Linked DNA regions of Homo sapiens. The protein of the gene in region 1 interacts with the protein of each later gene in a biochemical or structural test. Each region holds a gene or a part of one and is shown in the gene's direction. Other genes may lie near its edges.

The links. The genes of interacting proteins can lie anywhere in the genome.
Region 2: the proteins of MAD1L1 (region 1) and CENPE form a complex in vitro, tested with the Homo sapiens proteins (one study listed by IntAct).

What each region holds. Positions count from the first base shown.
Region 1 is NC_000007.14:1,935,929-1,942,953, reverse strand, and holds part of MAD1L1 (mitotic spindle assembly checkpoint protein MAD1), read left to right. Parts: intron 1-2,382; exon of another isoform or gene 2,383-2,866; intron 2,867-6,056; coding exon 6,057-6,267; intron 6,268-7,025. UniProt on the Homo sapiens protein: Component of the spindle-assembly checkpoint that prevents the onset of anaphase until all chromosomes are properly aligned at the metaphase plate.
Region 2 is NC_000004.12:103,188,343-103,195,367, reverse strand, and holds part of CENPE (centromere-associated protein E isoform 1 precursor), read left to right. Parts: intron 1-134; coding exon 135-254; intron 255-683; coding exon 684-765; intron 766-926; coding exon 927-994; intron 995-1,073; coding exon 1,074-1,139; intron 1,140-7,025. UniProt on the Homo sapiens protein: Microtubule plus-end-directed kinetochore motor which plays an important role in chromosome congression, microtubule-kinetochore conjugation and spindle assembly checkpoint activation.

The sequences.
Region 1 (7,025 bases):
ACTGTGTTGTTGGTCTGTACGTCGGTCCTCATGCCCACACCACACCATCCTGATTGCAGTGGCTTTGTAGTAAGTTTTGAAATCAGGAGACTGAGTCTTCCTCCCGTGTTCCCCCTTTGCAAGCCTGTGGTGGCTCTTCTGAGCCCCTGCAGTTCCGTGTGAGTTTCAGAATCAGCTTATCAGTTCTTCAGGGAGGCCGGCTGAGTCCTGGGATTGTACAGAATGTGCAGATCAGCCCTGGGAGTCTCTGGTCCCGACAGCGCCGGGTCTTCTGATCCGAGACATGGGATGTTTCCTAATCACCTAGATCCCGCCTAGTTTCCTCCCATGCTGTTTTGCTGCCTGTGTGTTTGAAATGGCTCCTCTTGGTGGGGTGGGTGCAGGAGTGGTGCTGTTTGTATAGGACATAGGGCCGTCCTCCCATCCCGACACTCGGCTGCCCTGGAGACGGGCCTCAGCACAGGGCTCCCATTACCCCTGCACTTCCAGCACCTGCTGAAATGTGTGGCGCGCGGGCTCCGAGGCATGGAATGGTGTGCCTGACTCTGCGCTGCCCAGGCTGTGGTCACAGCAGCAGGCTGGAAGTTTGGCTGTCGCCCCCAGCCACCTTGGGGCACGGTCCTGTCTCACCTGGAGCAGAGGTCCTGGGCCCCCAGGGGCTCAGGCGTGGCCTCCTTCTGGAGGGGCCGGGAATGTCCCCTCCACTTGCTGAGTGTTGGCCCAGGAGGCTCCTCTGTGGGATGCCAGCTGCTCCCACCATGAGTGGCAGCTCCACCCCTGTATTCACAGCTGTGCTGAGGGCATCCAGGGCCTGGAAATCATGTCAGATGGACAGACAGGTGTGCGGGTGGATGGACTAAGGGAAGAAAGGAAGGATGGCAGGAACGAACGCGTGGAGGTCAAGAGCCTGGCCCAGAATCACGGTGGGGACGTGAGCGGGTGGGTGGTGCCCAGTCTGCCCCTCCCGTGCTGCCTCTAGGGGCTCTGCCTTCTCCAGGCGTTAGGCAGGGAAAGTCCCCTGAACTTACAGAAAGACGACTAGGTGCCTGGAATGTTGCCATCTGCACAGAGCCCTAGCGCCTGTCCTCCCACTTCCCTCGCCCTCCTGGGAGGTGGGTTCTCCACGCCACCAGTTATGGAGCCCAGGCTTGTTCTCAGCCCTGGTCAGCGGTGCCATCGCAGGTCGCTCCAGCCCCAGCCGCAGGTGCCCAGTGAATGCTCTCCGTGACCCAGGGCCTCCTGCTGCAGGTGGAAGCCGGGCCACGGGAACCTGCGCCGACCTTGGCCTCACACTGTGGCTCCGGGAGAGCAGGACCTGGTGGTGCATGCGTAGCGGCTGAGGAGGACAAGCCTGGGGGCTGGTCCCAGCCCGGACACGGTGGCTTTGCACACACCAAGCCTTCGCCCCCAGCGGGGCCAGCAGTGCAGGGCGCTGCACTGTTGGGGGCCAGAGGGTGACAGGATTGGTGTTTAAGAAGAACTTCTCAGTTTTATCTTTTCTCTGTTTTGATTTGGTTTCCTTCATCTCTACTGGCTTGGGCTTTTGGTCCTTAAATCCTCTAATATACAGAATTGTTTCCTGGACCTCAAGCCCCCCATCAGGGGGGAAACCTCATCCCAGGATGATGGGCCGGTCGTGGGGCACCCTGGCTGGGGGCTGGGGGCTGGGGCTGTGCCTCTGGCTCTCGTTCCTGCCCGTGGAACGTTGAACGTTGCCAGGACATCCACCCCGGGGAACTTGACGTCCTCAGGCACTGCTGGGTCCAACGCCAGCGCTGGGCGCACCACCGCTGACCCCCGACCCCTCCTGCAAGTCCCCCTATCTGCTAAGTAGGAGGATGCTGGGGCCAGGCGAGGCCTTGCTGGGCAGCCTCTAGGATGGTCACTACCTCCTCCCACCTGGAGGTCCCTTCAGGAGGTCCGCGGTGTTGAAGCCTGGGGAGGAAGAGGAGGCTGAGGCCTGGGAGAGGAAGAGGAGGGTGAGGCCTGCGGGGGGAGGAAGAGGAGGGTGAGGCCTGGGGGAGGAGGGTCTCACTGCTCTGGGTCAGAGGAGGGCTGAGTACACGCTGTGCGGCCTGGTTCTTGCCAGGGGTCAGCTGACTACAGCCCCGCCTTCTGTGCAGCCCCTCAACTAAGAACCGTTGTACATTTTTGAAGGGTTGAAGAAAATCAAAAGAAGAATATTTTGGGACACACGCGGGTTATCTGAAATTCAGATTCGTGTTTCCGTGCCCGCAGCTCCGTCAGCGGGGCCCATGCTGGCCTTGTGTGCCCTGCGGCTTTCTGGGTGCAGTTGCAGCGCTACGTGGTTAGGACGGGGGCAGGGTGACTGCACAGCCCCGTGACTGGCTGCTCTCCGCAGGAGGCGGCCCCACCCTCTGCCCACATCCTCCCTGGCTCCTCGAGGCTCCGTAGGATGGTGAAGAGGTTGAGATGCTGTCCAGCCCACAGAGGCCCCGGAAAGCCAGTGCCGCCCGTCAGAGGGGTCTCCTGAGTGCGTGTGGGTGGCTGGATTCTGCATACTGGGTTATCTTAACCCCGGCTGTGAAAACTGGATGAAGTAGCAATCCTTTCAACCCCAAGAGTCTGTGATTCAGCCAGAGTTACAAGATGTCTCTTCATCCTCTGAGGTTTACAAGGTTCTCAGAAAACCTGTGAAGAGCTGCGCGGATCCTCTCCTGCCCCGGCCCAGCGGCAGGGCTGCCGCCTCCCTCTCCCCTGGGCCTGAGTGGGTGGATTTCCCCTCCCCTCCTCCTTCCCAGGAGAAGCACAGAGGGAGCGGCCAAGCGAGCCGTGTCTGCAAACCCCGCTTCCCTCTGCGGCGGCCTCTGCCATCGTGCCATGGGGCCGGAGGTCCCTGGTCCAGGTCAGCATGTCCATCTCCACTGGCCTCTTCCATGAGGGGGGTGGCAGGGCCAGCAGTTAGCTTGTGTGACGTGACGTCAGGGGGATGTCTTAGAGTCCGGGGTGGCACCAGGAGGGGTGAGGTCTCTTCCCTTCTTCCCCATCCTCTCCTCTCTCCCTGTTGGAGGCACATTCTGGGCTCTGGGACCACGATTGCCCATGGCTGATGAGCTCCAGCCCAAGTGAGGTCCCCAGGGTACAGCCCAAGCCAGGCCTCGCCGTCCTTCGGGGACTTGGAGAGCAGTGGCCCACAGCAGCCTGAGCTCTTGGGAGGCTGGAGGCTTACTGCGCCCGGTCTCTTCACCCCGTGGGGTGTGTCCACACCGGCCTCTCCTGAGAGCGTGGGGTGATCTGAACACAGGATGTGTTTCCCTGTTCCCCTCTGGGAGATAGGAGAGTGCGTGGGCAGAAGCCCCAAGGGTGGCAGGAACTCATTGCCAAAGGGGAGGAGGCCATTGCTATGCGTGGTGCTGGCCTGGCTTGCTGGGTCATGTCTGTGCCTGACATGACCCATGTCATGACCATGGTCATGTCTGTGCCTGACATGACCCATGTCATGACCATGGTCATGTCTGTGCCTGAGGGACCGGGTGCCCATCCAGTCTCACTGCCCCACAGCTCACAGCCACAAGCTGCAGAATCTCAGCACTTGGCGGGAGCCCTGGCCCGTGTGTGTGCGTGTGTGTGCGCCGCTGGCTCCAGCCCTGGCCTGTGTGTGTGTGTATGTGTGTGTGTATGTGTGTGCGTGCACCGCTGGCCCCGGCCCTGGCCCATGTGTGCGCGCGCCTCTGGTCCCGGCCCTGGCCCGTGTGTGTGTGCCTCTGGCCCTGGCCCGTGTGTGTGTGTGTGTGTGTGAGCGCCTCTGGTCCTGGCCCTGGCCCGTATGTGTGTGTGCGCCTCTGGTCCCGGCCCTGGCCCGTGTGTGTGTGCGCGCCTCTGGCCCTGGCCCGTGTGTGTGTGCGCGCCTCTGGTCCCGGCTCTGGCCCGTGTGTGTGTGTGTGTGCCTCTGGCCCCAGCCCTGGCCCATGTGTGTGTGTGTGTGTGTGTGTGCGTGTGTGTGCGCCTCTGGTCCCGGCCCTGGCCCGTGTGTGTGCGCCTCTGGTCCCGGTCCTGGCCTGTATGTGTGTGTGTGTGTGTGTGTGTGTGCGCGCCTCTGGCCCCGGCCCTGGACTGTGTCCGTGTGTGTGTGTGTGTGTGTGTGTGTGTGTGCCTCTGGCCCCGGCCCTGGCCCGTGTGTGTGTGTGCGCCTCTGGTCCCAGTCCTGGTCTCTGTGTGCGTGCGTGTGTGTGTGTGTGTGTGTGTGCGTGCGCGCCTCTGGCCCCAGCCCTGGCCCATGTGTGTGCACCTTTTCATATGTTTATCAGCTTTTTGGGTGTCTTTTTGGGAAGTGTCTGCTCACATGTTTTGCAGATTTTTAGAGTGGGTTGTCTGACATGCCCTTGGTTATTTCTGACATGCCCTTGGTTATTTCTGACATGCCCTTGGTTATTTCTGACTTCTTCGTATGTTCTGGATCTGAACCCTTTCTCAGAAATGTGATTTTCAAACAGCACCTCCTGCTCTGTGGGTGCCTTTCCACTGTTTCAGTGGATGAAGTTCTTAATTTCTATAAGGTCAGTTGTACTCTTTTTTTTTTCTTTTACGGCCAGCACTTCCTGAACCCTGTTTGAGTAACCTGTGTCTACTCCCAGGAGACAGAATGTGGTGGAATTGATGTTTGTGTGTGATGTGAGGTCGGGGTCTCAGGTGTGCAGTGACCCTGCACCTCCCTGCCGTGGGCGGCTGTTGTTTGTGTGTGGCGTGAGGTCGGGGTCTCGGGTGCGCAGTAACCCTGCAGCTCCCTGCCGTGGGCGGCTGATGTTTGTGTGTGGCGTGAGGTCGGGGTCTCGGGTGCGCAGTGACCCTGCACCTCCCTGCCGTGGGCGGCTGATGTTTGTGTGTGGCGTGAGGTCGGGGTCTCGGGTGCGCAGTGACCCTGCACCTCCCTGCCGTGGGCGGCTGATGTTTGTGTGTGGCGTGAGGTCGGGGTCTCGGGTGCGCAGTGACCCTGCACCTCCCTGCTGTGGGCGGCTGATGTTTGTGTGTGGCGTGAGGTCGGGGTCTCGGGTGCGCAGTGACCCTGCACCTCCCTGCTGTGGGCGGCTGATGTTTGTGTGTGGCGTGAGGTCGGGGTCTCGGGTGCGCAGTGACCCTGCACCTCCCTGCTGTGGGCGGCTGATGTTTGTGTGTGGCGTGAGGTCGGGGTCTCGGGTGCGCAGTGACCCTGCACCTCCCTGCTGTGGGCGGCTGATGTTTGTGTGTGGCGTGAGGTCGGGGTCTCGGGTGCGCAGTGACCCTGCACCTCCCTGCTGTGGGCGGCTGATGTTTGTGTGTGGCGTGAGGTCGGGGTCTCGGGTGCGCAGTGACCCTGCACCTCCCTGCTGGGGGCGGCTGTCCCCTGCTGTGGGCGGCTGTTCCCTGCTGTGGGCGGCTGTCCCCTGCTGTGGGGGGCTGTCCCTGCTGCAGGGCTGCATGGTGCTTGTTGCTGGGGGTCGGTCACCCACCACAGGTCAGCAGGCTGGGCCTCCAGGCGCACTCCTCCCTCAAGGATGCCACACACATCCCGGCCCTGGGTTTCGTGGGAACATCAGGTTGCGAGGCGCATTCCTGAGCCACCCACGCTGATGCCAGGCTCCCTTGCCTTCCATCTCTGTGTGGTTGACCTTGTTTCTCTTGTGGCACGGGGCACCTTCCAGGCTGGTAGGGAAGAGATGGGAACATGGCCACACGGGCTCCCAGTCTCATCCCAGCCAGGAACCTCAGAGGAGAGGAAGCCTCCCTCCCGGGCACTGAGTGTGGAATTCTGGGAAGCACCGCACTTGGCTGAGCAAAGGCCGCATGTCCCCTCTCACCCTGTTCCTGTGGTTAGGCAGAAGGGACCCAGCAGGTGGCCAGGCCTTGTTCCTGCACCTGTCCACAGGGCACAGGGAAGGAGCCACTCCTTCCAGGAGAGATGGCTGCCAGGCAGGCTCAAGAAGACAAAAGAACTGAGCACTGTGCTGTGTGTGACCCGTGCTGTGTGTCTTCCTGGGCCATGGTGACCCATGCTGTGTGTGACCCGTGCTGCGTGTGTGCCTGGGCCATGGTGACCTGTGCTGTGTGTGTTCCTGCAGGGTGACTATGACCAGAGCAGGACCAAAGTGCTGCACATGAGCCTGAACCCCACCAGTGTGGCCAGGCAGCGCCTGCGCGAGGACCACAGCCAGCTGCAGGCGGAGTGCGAGCGACTGCGCGGGCTCCTGCGCGCCATGGAGAGAGGAGGCACCGTCCCAGCCGACCTTGAGGCTGCCGCCGCGAGTCTGCCATCGTCCAAGGAGGTGGCAGGTAGGCACCCCCCACCCCCGGTCCCTGCCATCCTCGACCTTCCGTGGGTAGGTCCATCCGTGCGCCTTTGGGGCAGCCTCAGGCGCCCCTGCCTGTCATCCCCAGAGGGTTTGTCCTCCCCTGTGGGCAGCCGGGTCTGGTGGTTGCTGGGGCAGAGCACCCTGGCCCCGTGTCCCCATGGCCCCGTGGGGTTGTGCAAACAGGTGGAGCCATCCGAGTCTGCAGGCAGCTGTGGAGAAGCAAGGGGCTGAAATTTCAGGCCCTTAAACTAATTCGTATCATTTGTCAGTTTATATGTACCCCATTAATCACAAGTAAATCCAGTCCTCCACGAAAACAAGTCCATCTCTCACCAGCTTAAGTGTGCTTCATGGCGTCCAGAGAGCCCTTTGAGGCCAAGGCCTGTGGCGTCCCAGGGAAGAATGAGGCCTCCATGAGGGCCAGCAGGGCCTGCCCACACCCTCCAGGTCTACATGAGGCCCACGGCCTTTGGAACGCCAGCCTATCCCCTGATGTGGGGAGGTGGTGCTGGGGTCTGCCCACGCCAAGCCTCGGAGGGTGCTGCCGGGGCTGTGTCGACTCTGCAGGGTGCCCCTGAAGGAGCAGGGCTGGGAGTCCAGAGTCACTGTGCAGTCTGCACCCCCAGCGAGGCTGTGGGGCTCAGGAGACCCCTGCCCCCTGTGTTGCTCTCTGCTGTTGGAGGGAGCTGGGCACTGCCCCACGCTCCTGGTTCTGGGGGGACCTGGGGGAGGGTTCCC
Region 2 (7,025 bases), on another chromosome or scaffold:
TGTCAACAGTAGAACCAAGGGGTTTCTTAGTTTGTTTTACATACATTTTACCTCTTTAAGCACATGAGCATTTAGCATTAGGTTTTCACAATTGGATGCTTCCTGGTGTTTTTATATAATTTTTTTTCTTCTAGTTTCCTGATAGGGAATTTCTCTTACGTGTATCTTACATGGAAATATACAATGAAACCATTACAGATTTACTCTGTGGCACTCAAAAAATGAAACCTTTAATTATTCGAGAAGATGTCAATGTGAGTAGCAGACTTAAGGGAGCTTTAAAATTGACTGACTTATTGAGATTATTGTTCTTGAATGTTTACCTTTAATTTCTATAGTTTTTAAAGTGTCTCCTATTTCTATAGTATGTGAGGGTTTTTTTGAAGTATTTATATTCATCTTTTAAACAATATGAATAGTTTTAAAATACTGACAGCTCTAATATTTTGGTTTAAGTGTAAAAATAGCAAGTTGGAAGTATCAGGTTAGAATTTGTTGTGCTTTGGTATGTGAAATAAATTGTGGGTATTCATAGAATTATTTGTTACATTCCTACAGAATTATGGTTCCATTTGCCACTTTTAACTTTCACAAATGAATTCTATAATAGTTTGCACCTTCTTTTGAAAAGCAAACTTGTGACTTCTATTTCTCTAATCTTTCCATAATTAAACTTGTTTCAGAGGAATGTGTATGTTGCTGATCTCACAGAAGAAGTTGTATATACATCAGAAATGGCTTTGAAATGGATTACAAAGGGAGAAAGTAAGACTTTATGCTGTATTTCTTTAGAACACTTGTAAAAACTATCTTTTCAATCAAGCACGTTTGGACCTCAAATCATACTTTTTTAAGTTAAAATAAAAATTATTGTGTTTCTATGGATTTTATTATATATGCAGCTGAAATATAACTCATTTTTACAGAGAGCAGGCATTATGGAGAAACAAAAATGAATCAAAGAAGCAGTCGTTCTCATACCATCTTTAGGATGGTAGGTAATTCTATCTATCTGTTAGATCTTTCCAAGTAAGAATGCACTAATTTTTCTACAGCTTGCCTTTTCTATCTAGATTTTGGAAAGCAGAGAGAAGGGTGAACCTTCTAATTGTGAAGGATCTGTTAAGGTATCCCATTTGGTGAGTATTAATGAACCATAATAATGTACTGTATGGGCCAAAACAAAATTTAATTTAGTTGCTGGATGTTTGGTTTAATAAGAACTGTTAACTAAACTAAATGTGGGAGGAAATCTACAAATTGTCTGCTTAGTCTTGTCAGTATCATCAAATTCCTAGCTAAAATGTCGTAGGAAAAATTCAGAGGATCTTTCTTCCTGTTATGTCATGGTTGCCATCTCCTAAAATTTAAATGTCAGGGCTATAGGGTTATAGGAATTGATGTTTTTTCTAACCACTAATGCAGTAGAATTTTTTTCTATACACATTTAACACTTTAGATCATCTTAGAATTTGAGGGTCTTTTTGTAAAATCTCAGCCAATGTAATTTAGACTTATGTGATCAACAAAAATCTAGGTTGGATGGTTAAAAAGTAATCACATTACTTTAGGTTTTACTTAAGTACAACAATAAAATATATTTTGTATTGTAAACGTAGTACTTTAGACTGTAAATCCATTGAGGAGTGATACTGCATTCATCCTGGTAGCCCCAACACATTATACCTATTTTATGTCTAATATAGATTTGCTGAATAAGCGAATATATGCATTATGCAAACATTCCTATATTCCACATTAGTAAACCTTCACTTCCTTCTTTCCACACTAAATTATTGCTGTTTCTTTCTTGCTCCTTTTCTATCTTTTACCATATTGCTTTATTCTGCATTTTTAGGGCCTAAATTCTTTAGCTTGATGTGGGATATGATTTAAGATTATTTGATTAGAAAACTTCAGGGAAAAAAGCAATCTATAATATGTTTATTCATTTTCAGATTTTATAAAATTAGATTATTAATTACTTAATATTCAATCCTAATTTCACCTTAGCTATTTTGCTATAAAATTGTATAACTTATTTTAGTAGACTTTAATCTTGTTTTAATTTAACAATAAAAAACCAAACCCTAACCTCTTTAGTTTTCTCATCCAAGACTGTGATATTTCATATAATTTTAACTTTTAATAATTTAGCTTTAATACTCTTGGCATATTCAGTGATCTACTTGATGATTTTCCTCATGTTACGTGATGCTCTGTCATTTGTGTTCCATCTGTTCCAACCCTCCAGCCTACCCACTTACTCTAAGAATCTTCTTGGAAAGAAGTCTCTAAAGAGTCATCTCTGTCTCTTTAGAGGTGGCTCTTTTCTGATTATCTCCTGGCCTTGGTGGGATGATAATATCCAGTTTCTCTTAGCTGTACTCCTCTGTTTTCTACCCTGGCTTCTTTTTCCCTACCCTCCTAAAAAAATAATTAAAAAAAAAAAAACTTGGAGGTATTCTGTGACGTTTCTTACTCAAGTTCTTGCTCTCAAATGTTCTGTCATCATTTCCATGTTGATGACTGCCAAATATTTTACCTATAGTCTCTGAATTCTAATTCATGTCTTCCTAAAGATGGTTATAATTGTGTCCCATCATTATCTCAAACTTTAATATGTCTAAAACGAAACTATTTTCTTCCTACCATAGTGAATATTCCTTATTTCCAGTAAAACCAGCATTATCCTAGCTGCCTAAGCTGGAAACCTAAGTCAATTTTGACTCATCTTTTTCTGCCTTTCTCTTTGTCCACTTGTCCCATTTCTTACTGATCCTACCTTTAAACATTTCCATGGGTGCTACACTCATTTACTTTCTCATCTCTCTTGAATTACTATGTCAGTCTCCTGGAACCTTGTCTCCATGACCCTTGTCTTTGTTTCTTGAAGTCATCATAAGGATTTCGAATATACTAACCATTGCTTTTGTATATCACTTCCTGGGGCAAGATTTGGCCACTCTTAACCAATCTAACTTTATTTCCTTCTGCTCTACATGAACTCCTCCCTCATAGATTGGGCCTCTGAGTATCTTTGAATATGAATGCTTGTTCTCATCTTTAACCTTCACTCATGCTGCCTTCATTACCACTTTGCCCTTTTATTATGTATCTGTGTCATCTGTAGTGGACACTGTGCAAGAAAAATTAGCCTCCTTAACTGGTAATACATATTTACCTGCCTAGTCTCAAAAATCTCCACAGAGAGAAATAACGTAAAGCTTTGACTTTCTTTCAAATCACTCACAATATTTACTAAGTTGTTATTGTCTTCTGAGCATGGTGTTGGGCTCTGAGATTAAAAAAACAATAAACAAGACACCCCTTCACTGCTTCTCTTACAAGCAGTCTCCTCTGCCACCTCCCTAACCCAAGCTGGTATTATCTCTCACCGAGATTCCTGCCCCAGCTGCCTGATGGGGCTGCCTGCAGCTGCTCTTGCCCCTTCCCAATCCATCCTCCACCCAGTAGTCATAGTGGATCCATTGTGAGAGTCATTGCTGAGCTTTATGCAAGGTTCTCTTTTTTTTTCCAGTTTTACGTTTTTTTATTTTTATTTATTTTTTTATTATACTTTAAGTTTTAGGGTACATGTGCACAACATGCACGTTTGTTACATATGTATACATGTGCCATGTTGGTATACTGCACCCATTAACTCGTCATTTACATTAGGTATATCTCCTAATGCTATCCCCCCCTCCCCCCACCCCACAACAGGCCCCGGTGTGTGATGTTCCCCTTCCTGTGTCCACGTGTTCTCATTGTTCAGTTCCAACCTATGAGTGAGAACATGCGGTGTTTGGTTTTTTGTCCTTGCGATAGTTTGCTGAGAATGATGGTTTCCAGCTTCATCCATGTCCCTACAAAGGACATGAACTCATCATTTTTTATGGCTGCATAGAATTTCATGGTGTATATGTGCCACATTTTCTTAATCCAGTCTACCATTGTTGGACATTTGGGTTGGTTCCAAGTCTTTGCTATTGTGAATAGTGCTACAATAAATATACGTGTGCATGTGTCTTTATAGCAGCATGATTTTATAATCCTTTGGGTATATACCCAGTAATGGGATGGCTGGGTCAAATGGTATTTCTAGTTCTAGATCCCTGAGGAATCACCACACTGTCTTCCACAATGGCTGAAGTAGTTTACAGTCCCACCAACAGTGTAAAAGTGTTCCTATTTCTCCACATCCTCTCCAGCACCTGTTGTTCCCTGACTTTTTAACGATTGCCATTCTAACTGGTGTGAGATGGTATCTCATTGTGGTTTTGATTTGCATTTCTCTGATGGCCAGTGATGATGAGCATTTTTTCGTGTGTCTTTTGGCTGCATAAATGTCTTCTTTTGAGAAGTGTCTGTTCATATCCTTCGCCCACTTGTCGATGTGGTTGTTTGTTTTTTTTTTTTCTAAATTTGTTTGAGTTCTTTATATATTCTGGATATTAGCCCTTTGTCAGATGAGTAGATTGCAAAAATTTTCTCCCTTTCTATAGGTTGCCTGTTCACTCTGATGGTAGTTTCTTTTGCTGTACAGAAGCTCTTTAGTTTACTTAGATCCCATTTTGTCAATTTTGGCTTTTGTTGTCATTGCTTTTGGTGTTTTAGACATGAAGTCCTTGCCCATGCCTATGTCCTGAATGGTATTGCCTAGGTTTTCTTCTAGGGTTTTTATGGTTTTAGGTCTCACATTTAAGTCTTTAATCCATCTTGAATTAATTTTTGTATAAGGTGTAAGGAAGGGATCTGGTTTCAGCTTTCTACATATGGCTAGCCAGTTTTCCCAGCACCATTTATTAAATAGGCAATCCTTTCTCCATTTCTTGTTTTTATCAGGTTTGTCAAAGATCAGATAGTTGTAGATATGTGGCATTATTTCTGAGGGCTCTGTTCCTTTCCATTGGTCTATATCTCTGTTTTGGTACTAGTACCATGCTGTTTTGGTTACTGTAGCCTTGTAGTATAGTTTGAAGTCAGGTAGCATGATGCCTCCAGCTTTGCTCTTTTGGCTTAGGATTGACTTGGCAATGCGGGCTCTTTTTTGGTTCCATATGAACCTTAAAGTAGTTTTTTCCAGTTCTGTGAAGAAAAGTCATTGGTAGCTGATGGGGATGGCAATGAATCTATAAATTACCTTGGGCAGTATGGCCATTTTCACGATATTGATTCTTCCTACCCATGAGCATGGAATGTTCTTCCATTTGTTTGTATCCTCTTTTATTTCCTTGAGCAGTGGTTTGTAGTTCTCCTTGAAGAGGTCCTTCACATCCCTTATAAGTTGGATTCCTAGGTATTTTATTCTCTTTGAAGCAATTGTGAATGGGAATTCACTCATGATTTGTCTCTCTGTTTGTCTGTTATTGGTGTATAAGAATGCTTGTGATTTTTGCACATTGATTTTGTATCCTGAGACTTTGCTGAAGTTGCTTATCAGCCTAAGGAGATTTTGGGCTGAGACGATGGGGTTTTCTAGATACACAATCATGTCATCTGCAAACAGGGACAATTTGACTTCCTCTTTTCCTAATTGAATACCCTTTATTTCCTCCTCCTGCCTGATTGCTCTGGCCAGAACTTCCAACACTATGTTGAATAGGAGTGGTGAGAGAGGGCATCCTTGTCTTGTGCCAGTTTTTAAAGGGAATGCTTCGAGTTTTTGCCCATTCAGTATGATATTGCCTGTGGGTTTGTCATAGATAGCTGTTATTATTTTGAGATACGTCCCATCAATACCTAACTTATTGAGAGTTTTTAGCATGAAGTGTTGTTGAATTTTGTTAAAGGCCTTTTCTGCATCTATTGAGATAATCATGTGGTTTTTGTCTTTGGTTCTGTTTATAGGCTGGATTACGTTTATTGATTTTTGTATGTTAAACCAGCCTTGCATCCCAGAGATGAAGCCCACTTGATCATGGTGGATAAGCTTTTTGATGTGCTGCTGGATTCTGTTTGCCAGTATTTTATTGAGGATTTTTGTATCGATGTTCATCAGGGGTATTGGTCTGAAATTCTCTTTTGTTGTTGTGTCTCTGCCAGGCTTTGGTTTCAGGATGATGCTGGCCTCATAAAATGAGTTAGGGAGGATTCCCTTGTTTTGTATTGATTAGAATAGTTTCAGAAGGAATGGTACCAGCTCCTCCTAGTACCTCTGGTAGAATTCGGCTGTGAATCCATCTGGTCCTGGGCTTCTTTTGGTTGGTAGGCTGTTAATTATTGCCTCAATTTCAGAGCCTGTTTTGGTCTATTCAGAGATTCACTTCTTCCTGATTTAGTCTTGGGAGGGTGTATGTGTCCAGCAATTTATCCATTTCTTCTAGATTTTCTAGTTTATTTGCATAGAGGTGTTTATAGTATTCTCTGATGGTAGTTTGTATTTCTGTGGGATCGGTGATGATATCCCCTTTATCATTTTTTATTGGGTCTATTTGATTCTTCTCTCTTTTCTTCTTTATTAGTCTTGCTAGCGGTCTATCAATTTTGTTGGTCTTTTCAAAAAACCAGCTCCTGGATTCATTGATTTTTTGAAGGGTTTTTTGTGTCTCTGTCTCCTTCAGTTCTGCTCTGATCTTAGTTATTGCTTGCCGTCTGCTAGCTTTTGAATGTGTTTGATCTTGCTTTTCTAGTTCTTTTAATTGTGATGTTAGGGTGTCAATTTTAGATCTTTCCTGCTTTCTCTTGTGGGCGTTTAGTGCTATAAGTTTCCCTCTACACACTGCTTTAAATGTGTCCCAGAGATTCTGGTATGTTGTGTCTTTGTTCTCATTGGTTTCAAAGAACATCTTTATTTCTGCCTTCATTTTGTTATGTACCCAGTAGTCATTCAGGAGCAGGTTGTTCAGTTTCCATGCAGTTGAGCGGTTTTGAGTGAGTTTCTTAATCCTGAGTTCTAGTTTGATTGCACTGTGGTCTGAGAGACAGTTTGTTATCATTTCTGTTCTTTTACATTTGCTGAGGAGTGCTTTACTTCCAACTATGTGGTCAATTTTGGAATAAGTGTGATGTGCTGAGAAGAA